Regions from separate parts of the Homo sapiens genome. Here region 1 is linked to region 2. Evidence: fine-mapped expression QTL. Tissue or cell type: pancreas. Region 2 holds a variant in brackets; the other region holds the start of a gene. All regions are shown on one strand. Distances are between the middles of the regions. Region 1 holds the start of LHFPL5 (LHFPL tetraspan subfamily member 5). Region 2 overlaps SRPK1 (SRSF protein kinase 1).

Region 1 (4,000 bases), 38 kb after region 2:
CAGCCCCCACATTGTTTTAAAGGACCCTAGGCCAGGTGCTGTGGATCACATCTGAAATCCCAACACTTTGGGAGACTGAGGCAGGCAAATCACTTGAGCCCAGCAGTTCAAGACCTGCCTGGGCAACATGACAAAACCCCGTCTCTACAAAAAATACAAAAAAAATTAGCTAGACATGGTGGTGCGCACCTGGAGTCCCAGCTACTTGGGAGGCTGATGTGAGAGGATCACCTAAGTCCAAGGAGGTTGAGGCTGCAGTCAGCTGAGATCATGCCACTGCACTCCAGCCTGAGCCAAAGAGTGAGACTCTGTCTCAAAAAACAAACAAACAACAACAACAACAAAAGGACCCTAAATAGCTTCCTCTACCTCACAAAATATCACTCCATTTGCTGCCTTAAGTATAAAATCCCATGATCAAGGAAAAAAGACTTTCACTCCACAATGAAAGAGGGGAATTTAGATGAAAGTTTCTATAGGCAAGGTCATACCCTGCATAATAGTAACACTCCAAAATCAGCAAGAGACCTTAGAATCTGAGAGCAGTTTGGAGTGGGAGAGAGAGAATGAGGACAGAGTTCTGGGCACTCTTAAAAAGAACAAAAGCCCAGAGGTGGGAGATGAAGGCATCTAGAATGTGCTTGACTGGTGTCACTACTTTGTGCTAGGGTTGAGTCCTATTCCCACATGGCCAACAATGGAAGCTTCCTTCTTTCTCTCTCTCACAGCTGCAAAAACTGATGTGATGGCCTGGGAATCAGGACTGGCAACTGTGTGCTCCTGGGCAAGTCACTTCCCCTTACAGATGAGGTTCTGGGCTCAGATGAGGTTCTGGGCTCAGAACCTCATCTGTAGGATGAGAGGGTTGGACAGCTTGGTCTCTAAGGTCTTTTCTGCCTCTGCCATTTTAAGATTCTCAACTCCTCAGAATCTTCTGCAGAGCACTGAGTAGGACTGGGCTATAGGAGAACAGCTAAATTTAAGGCCCAGAGCCCTGGCAGAGGCTGGGATGGTGCAGCTGCAGCTGTGGCCCCGGGGTGGGCCCCTGCCTGCCCTCCCACCATCTCTGCTTACCCGCAGCCAGCTGCATCCATGCACAGATCTTATAGACTGTGGCCGTGTTGCAGATGAAGAACAGGCTGAAGCAGATGATGGAGCCAATGATGAGGAACATGCCCAAGGCCACAAAGAACATGGCAGTCTTGAAGGCTCTAGAGGGGATGGAGGAGAAGTCTAGGGGGCCGCCCTTGCAGATGAGCTCGGAGGACAGCACGTTACCCACGCAGTAGGAGAAAAGGCCGAAGTAGCCTGCCTGCGGTGTGTTGACGCTGTCGCCGATCCAGTAGGGCTGGATGAAGAGGGCCATGACCAGTACGGAGAAGCAGATGGTGAGGGTACCCCACATCACGCCCACGGCTCGCGAGTTCCGCACATAGTTGGTATGGTAGATCTTGGCTGCCTCCTGGGCCGGCAGCAATTTCACCATGGTGAGGGCAGCAGGCCCTGGGCTGGGGTCCCGTGGGCTGCAAGTCCGTAGCTTTGTGGATGGAGGCCTAGAAGCAGGTCACTCCCCAGCGGGGTTTGGGGAGGAGGCTGAGGTCAGGGCACCAGGTGAGGTCCCTTCAAGGCAAGGGGAAGAGGCTTAATAGGACAAGGACAACCTTGATTTGGTCAAGGAAAGCTTGCCAGGTGCCTGTGTCCGCTCTAGCCGAGGCTGTCTCCAGTCTCCTGCCTCCTCCCAAGCCCACCAGGGCCTGCTGGCGCCGCCCTGCCCGTCTCCCTCTTCCCGGCTCACGGCTCCCGAGAGCCCCGCCCCCTCCTCCGTCCGCGGAGGGCGCCGTTTCAGCACCGCGGCCAGCGCCCCGGGGTTCCGGGCGAGGGGCGGGGCCTGCAGCAGAGGCGGGGAAGGGGCAGAGCTCCCACTACAGGCCCCCGCCGCGGGGAATCGGAACACCGTTCACCTTCCTGAACCGAGATGACAAGAATTGGGAAGGTGGGGATGTGACTGACACATTCCTACTGCTCAATTCCAGCAGCAAAAACGCTTTCCCCCCGCAAAAGCGCTGTCCACATCCCATCCCACCCCGCCCCTGCCTGGCTCCCTAGTCGCCTTCCCAGAACCTCCAACTCCACCACTCCGGAGGTCAGCAAAGCCTTTCCTGGTTGCCTTCTGGTCACCGGTTTTTCGTCCTTAGCATTCAGTCAACGATTTCTAAAAGCATACTATGTGTTAAGATTATGTTGGAGGACATCTAAGCAAAACCACAGATAAAAAAGACAGGGCCCCCGTCCTCAAAGACAGTGAAATATTTACATATATAATATACGTATATATGTAGTCTATATAAATATATATATAAAACGCCTGTATATGCAGACTGATTGTGTGATAACAGAAGCAACTACAAAGTATAGCAGACAACATTCTTTATGAGCCTTCTCAGACCTGAACATATGTGTTTTGTCAAATACAATGCCTTTCTCCCCTTGTTTCTATTTGTTTGTTACATATTTCCCCATTTAAATATATATATGTTTTAATATATTATATATATACATATTTCTCCTGATTTTATAGGTAAATACATGGCTAGTGTAAAGAACTAGGAAAATTCCACTGGGCGTGGGGCTTACGCCTGTAATCCCAGCACTTTGGAAGGCCAAGGCAGGCGGATCATGAGGTCAGGAGATCGAGACCATCCTGGCTAACACAGTGAAACCCCGTCTCTACTAAAAATACAAAAAAATTAGCCGGGCGTGGCAGCACGCGCCTGTTGTCCCAGCTGCTGGGGAGGCTGAGGCAGAAGAATGGTGTGAACTCGGGAGGCGGAGCTTGCAGTGAGCCGAGATCGCGCCACTGCACTCCAGCCTGGGTGACAGAGCAAGACTCCGTCTCAAAAAAAAAAAAATAATAATAATAATAACACCAACGTCCGGAGCTAAGGAAAGACAAGACAATCTTAAAAACATGGACTTTGGGGTTCAACAGGCCTGGATTTGAATGAGCTACTTACTAAGTAACCATCCATGGACTTAACCTTCCTTCCGGAGCCTCAGTTTCGCCATCTATTAAATGCAGGAAATGCACTTACGCCGGGCGTAGTGGCGGGTGCCTGTATTCCCAGCTACTCAGGAGGCTGAGACAGGAGAATTGCTTGAACCCCGGGAAGCAGAGGTGGCAGTGAGCTGAGATCGCACCATTGCACTCCAGCCTGGGCAACAAGAGCAAAACTCCATTTCAAAAAATAATAATAATAATTTTTTTTTTAAAGTGCTCAAAGGTACATTAGTGGTCTCTAATCCCAGCACTTTGGGAGGCCAGGCAGTCCGATCACTTGAGCTCAGGAATTCTAGACTAGCCTGGGCAACATAGCAAGACTCCCGTCTCTACAAAAAATACACAACTTAGCCAGGCATAGCCAGGCATGGTGGTGCTTGCCTGTAGTCGCAGCTACTTGGGAGGTTGAGGTGGGAGAATCACTGGAGCCCAGGAGGTCGAGGCTGCAGTGAACCATGATCACACCACTGCACTCCAGTCTGGGCTTTAACAAAAAAAGAGAAAGTACTCAAAAATGTTGGTGATTATTATTATTACCATTGTTAATCTCTGCAGTTTCCCCCTTCTGAACATACTCCTTTACACAATTGGATGATGTATGTACAATTTTATTTTATTTTATTTTATTTTATTTTTATTTTACTTTTCTTGAGACAGAGTTTCACTCTTGTTGCCCAAGCTGGAGTGCAATGGCATGATCTTGGCTCACAGCAACCTCCGCCTCCCTGGTTCAAGCGATCCTCCTGTCTCAGCCTCCCAAGTAGCTGGGATTACAGGCATGCACTGCCATGCCCAGCTAGTTTTTTGTTTTGTTTTGTTTTTTGTTCTTTGAGACAGAGTTTTGCTCTTGTTGCCCAGACTGGAGTGCAGTGGCGCGAACTTGGCTCACGGCAACCTCCACCTTCCTGGTTCAACTGATTCTCCTGCCTCAGCCTCCTGAGT
Region 2 (4,526 bases):
CCACACACAACCATATTGCTTATGAAATGCTAGATTGCCCCTCAAGCTGTGTCAGTATTCCTTTCTGCTACCTGGAGTTTGCAATTTACTTCTGGATCTGAATGTAATTAGTCTGTTTAAATTGTCATTGTTTTAACTTTTCCATGCATTTCATGCTATCTTCTAAGCCATTCTTCTCAAAGGCAATAGTCTAGAGAAGGTTAACAAAGGATGGTACACTGGTTTTATTTGGGTTTGTTTCTTAATAGACTTTATTTTTTAGAGCAGTTTTAGGTTCACAGAAAAATTGAACAAAAAGTACAAATAAGTTTTATATGCTCCCCACACACAGAGCCTCCCCAACTGTCGATCTGCTGCTCCAGAGTGATACATTTGTTACAAACAATGAACCTACATTGGCACATCATTATTAACCAAAGTCAGTAGTTTACATTTCATTTCACTCTTTTAGAAGTTTTGACAAATGTATCTATCATTATTATATACAATATCGTTTCACTGCTCTAAAACTCCTCTGTGCTCTGCCTATTCATCCCTCCCGTCCCCCACTCGCTGGCAACCACTGATATTTTTATTGTCTCCATAATGTCAAATAGTTGGAATCATACAGTATGTAGCCTTTTTAGATTAGGTTCTTTCACTTAGTAATATGCATTTAAGGTTCCTCCATATCTTCACGGCTTAATAGCTCATTTCTTTTTAGCACTGAAGAGTATTTCATTTTCTAGCCTCCTGAATAGCTGGGACCACAGGCGTATAGCACTGCCGCGGCTGGCTCTGTGTTTTTTGTTTTTTGTTTTTTTTAACTTTAATTTCAGTATTTTTACTGAACTCTATATATGAGACCATGAGATTTTTTTTTAAAGTACTGGTATCAGGAATGATTGACAAGTTTTGGTGAACAAGAATCATGATTTGTTTCTCTGTTGCTTTGGGACTATAAACCTCGGAACAACTCAGGGTAGAACAAGTATCTGCTCTATCACTGTGGTTCAGTTTCTTAATAAACAACTGAAATGTAAAATAAGCAATGCCAAGCAAGAAGCCATAGCACTGCTGACATTTAGAGATAGTATTTGATTCCTAAACCTATCCTGAAACTTCTGGTTTTGTGGTCTCCCTCTGGACGGTAGTACAGTTTTGAGAAAGGCTGTTCTGTCATGAAACTGCAGAAACTGACACTGGTGAGCCACCAGGACCTAAACTTGGGTCTAAATTGAGAATATGCCCCAACTAAGTCCTGGACTCTACAGTTCTTGAGGTTGTTTGGACTGCTTAGTACCATTGATTTAATCAAAATTGACCTATGACTAGCGCTTATTTTATAACTGTGCTTCCCTATCAATAAGGTCATTTTTTAAAACTGCTGTTGGCCAGGCGTGGTGGCTCACACCTGTGATCCCAGCACTTTGGGAGGCCGAGGCAGGCGGATCACGAGGTCAGGAGATCGAGACCATCCTGGCTAACATGGTGAAACCCTGTCCTACTAAAAATACAAAAAATTAGCCGGGCTTGGTGGCGGGCACCTGTAGTCCCACCTACTGGGGAGGCTGAGGCAGGAGAATGACATGAACCTGGGAGGCGGAGCTTGCAGTGAGCCGAGATTGTGCCACTGCACTCCAGCCTGGGCGACAGAGCGAGACTCCATCCAAAAAAAAAAAAAAAAAACTGCTGTTGTGTACTAATTTTTAAAACTCCATTTGTAATCAGTGAGGATTTATGTAGCCCTGCTTTTCATTCTGCATGGCACTTATTCCCAAGGATATCATTTCCTAAGACACTCTCGAGCACTGTAAGAGGTTTTTCTATTAAAGGAGACAGGCTTTTCTTTTCCTAATTAGGGAGTGCTGACTTGCCAGTCACATAGGCTAGGCTCCTGACTCCCTTTACACTTAATCTTCTGATTTTCTAAAGACCTACGAATTGGCCAGGCATGGTGGCTCACGCCTGTAATCCCAGCACTTTGGGAGGCAGAGGCGGGTGGATCATGAGGTCAAGAGATTGAGACCATCCTGGCCAACATGGTAAAACCCCATCTCTACTAAAAATACAAAAATTAGCTGGGCGTGGTGGCATGCACCTGTAGTCCCAGCTACTCCGGAGGCTGAGGCAGGAGAATCACTTGAACCCAGGAGGCAGAAGTTGCAGTGAGCTGAGATCATGCCAGTGCACTCCAGTCTGGCCGGCAGAGCAAGATTCCATCTCAAAAACAAAGGACCTAGGAATCAGGAACTTCCCATCTGGGACAATCTAGGGAGTACTTCCTATGCAAAAGTTAATGATGTACTTGTCAAACACTAAAGAGTCATAAGTAGAAGTCTGAATTTTTTTTTTTTTTTGATTTTTTTTGTTTGGTACAGAATCTCAATTTCTAGCCATGTGTGATTATAATGTAAGAAAGACCTGGGCTGGGCGTGGTGGCTCACACCTGTAATCCCAGCACTTTGGGAGGCCAAGGTTGGCAGATCACGAGGTCAGGAGATTGAGAACATCCTGGCTAACGCAGTGAAACCCCATCTCTACTAAAAATACAAAAAATTAGCTGGGCGTGGTGGTGGGCACCTGTAGTCCCAGCTACT[C/T]GGGAGGCTGAGGCAGGAGAATGGTGTGAACCCAGGAGGCGGAGCTTGCAGTGAGCCGAGACCGTGCCACTGCACTCCAGCCTAAGCAACAGAGTGAGACTCCGTCTCAAAAAAAAAAAAAAAAGACCTGTTCTTCTCATGAATAATAACTTAGAATCACCTTAATATCCAGGTATGCCCCTTTCCGGCCAAAAAAGGGAAACTCAGGAGGGCTGAATTGCTAGGGTTTAGGGTGGGGAGGTTTGGGCATGAAATAACCCACATGTTAGTATTTACTGAGTCTTTGCTGTTTTCTCCATTTTATTAAGATAGGGATGTGGAAGGAATGCTTTAGGAATAATCTTAAGTTTTTGTTTTTTTTTTTTTTTAAATGATCTATAAGTTTTCCCAAGGGAACAAGAGTTACTTCATATTGAGCCAAATAGCAATCAGCTTTCCAAAGGCCTTCTTTTCTTTTGTGCTTTCATATACTGTCCTCTTTTTTTTTTAGGCCTTTGAACTGGCCACAGGTGACTATTTGTTTGAACCTCATTCAGGGGAAGAGTACACTCGAGATGAAGGTGAGTCCCCTTAACCATGGATGTGTGTGCGTGGTATTTACACTTTCCACATTAAGCTAACATCATTTGTTAGTACCGAAGAGCCTTAGTCTTGTTAGTGTGCAAAACATGTAAATCCCAGAAAAGTTAGAAATATAAAAGACATTTTATATTAGGTTTTTAGATATTTTCTGAAAGATACTAAAGAGCTCTGTCAGAGTCAAAAGGCCACAGTTCACCTAAAACTTCTGTGTGCTGGACAATTTTTTCTTCAACATCTAGTTATCTTCCTTTCTGTATATATCAGTGGTTCATTCTTTACCCAGTTTTTTACCTGCTCATCAACCTGTTGCTCAATTATGCCTCCAAATTTATTTAGAGGTCAGTTATTTTAATATACACACACTACTTGAATGCAGAGACTATATCCTATTTCTATAAATTCTGCCAAAATTTAGCATTCTTTTTTCCCTTTTCTGAATATAAAACTAATTTTTTCTTTTTTGGAATTCCATTTTAAAACAAAGTAGAATGGATTTACATGTTGTGGTAGCCAGTGGGAAAAGCCTAGGCTGCCAGTTACTTTGTCTGAGAGACTGTGGAAGCAGCAACTGTGTGTGTCTGATTTTTCTATTATGATGGCATCCAGATAACTAAATGAGTTAATAATTTGAATGAACAAACAAAATGGTTTTGTGATTTTTTTTTTTTTTTTTTTTTTTTTTGAGACGGAGTCTCACTCTGTCGCCAGGCTGGAGTGCGGTGGTGCGATCTCGGCTCACTACAACCTCCACTTCCCTCGTTCAAGCGATTCTCCTGCCTCGGCCTCTCGAGTAGCTGGGACTACGGGCTTGTGCCACCATGCCCAGCTAATTTTTGTATTTTTAGTAGAGACGGGGTTTCACCATGTTGGCCAGGATGGTCTCTGTCTCTTGACCTCGTGGTCCACCCACTTCAGCCTCCCAAAGTGCTGGGATTACAGGCGTGAGCCATCACGCTCAGCCAAGAAAATGTTTTATACAGTTGAGGCAGCTTATGTTTTAGTTGTAGGATTAATGAGGATTATTTTGAGATATCACTACAGCATCTACCCTCCCAATGTAGAGCATGTTCTTTACTTTTTGTGCTTTCCTTGAATCTTTGGGAATGCATATTTCATGCTGTATGGAACCAAGAGTGCTCTTTGTTTCTCAAAATGTGGTCTTCTGGGATATTAATAGGTAATGTTAGTAGGACCTGCTAATATTCCTAATGAATACCATTTGGAAAATGCTATGCTATGTAATTCCCATGAATGCCTATTTAAGTGGGTAGAGTTTGGACATATTTTGTATATATAAGCCCCATGTTAGAGGATACTATAATTACTACTTGATTTTACCTACTCTCTGCTTGCTATTTTTCTGGG

The links. PIP is the estimated chance that this variant, and not a neighbour inherited with it, causes the effect.
Region 1: LHFPL5 starts here. The variant in region 2 is the best candidate, but not a certain one, in a credible set for the expression of LHFPL5 in pancreas (GTEx, PIP 0.75).

What each region holds. Positions count from the first base shown.
Region 1 is chr6:35,803,157-35,807,156 of GRCh38, reverse strand. It overlaps LHFPL5 (LHFPL tetraspan subfamily member 5), which reads right to left and starts at 1,805. Exons shown (of 4, transcript NM_182548.4): 1 at 1,075-1,805. The coding sequence starts at 1,486. RefSeq lists a silencer at 1,767-1,936.
Region 2 is chr6:35,841,148-35,845,673 of GRCh38, reverse strand. SRPK1 (SRSF protein kinase 1) reads left to right here. Exons shown (of 16, transcript NM_003137.5): 14 at 3,070-3,139. Among named protein-coding and RNA genes, the nearest start is that of LHFPL5, 38 kb to the right of the region's middle. RefSeq lists a silencer at 2,420-2,575. The variant C/T (reference allele first, on the strand shown) is at 2,580.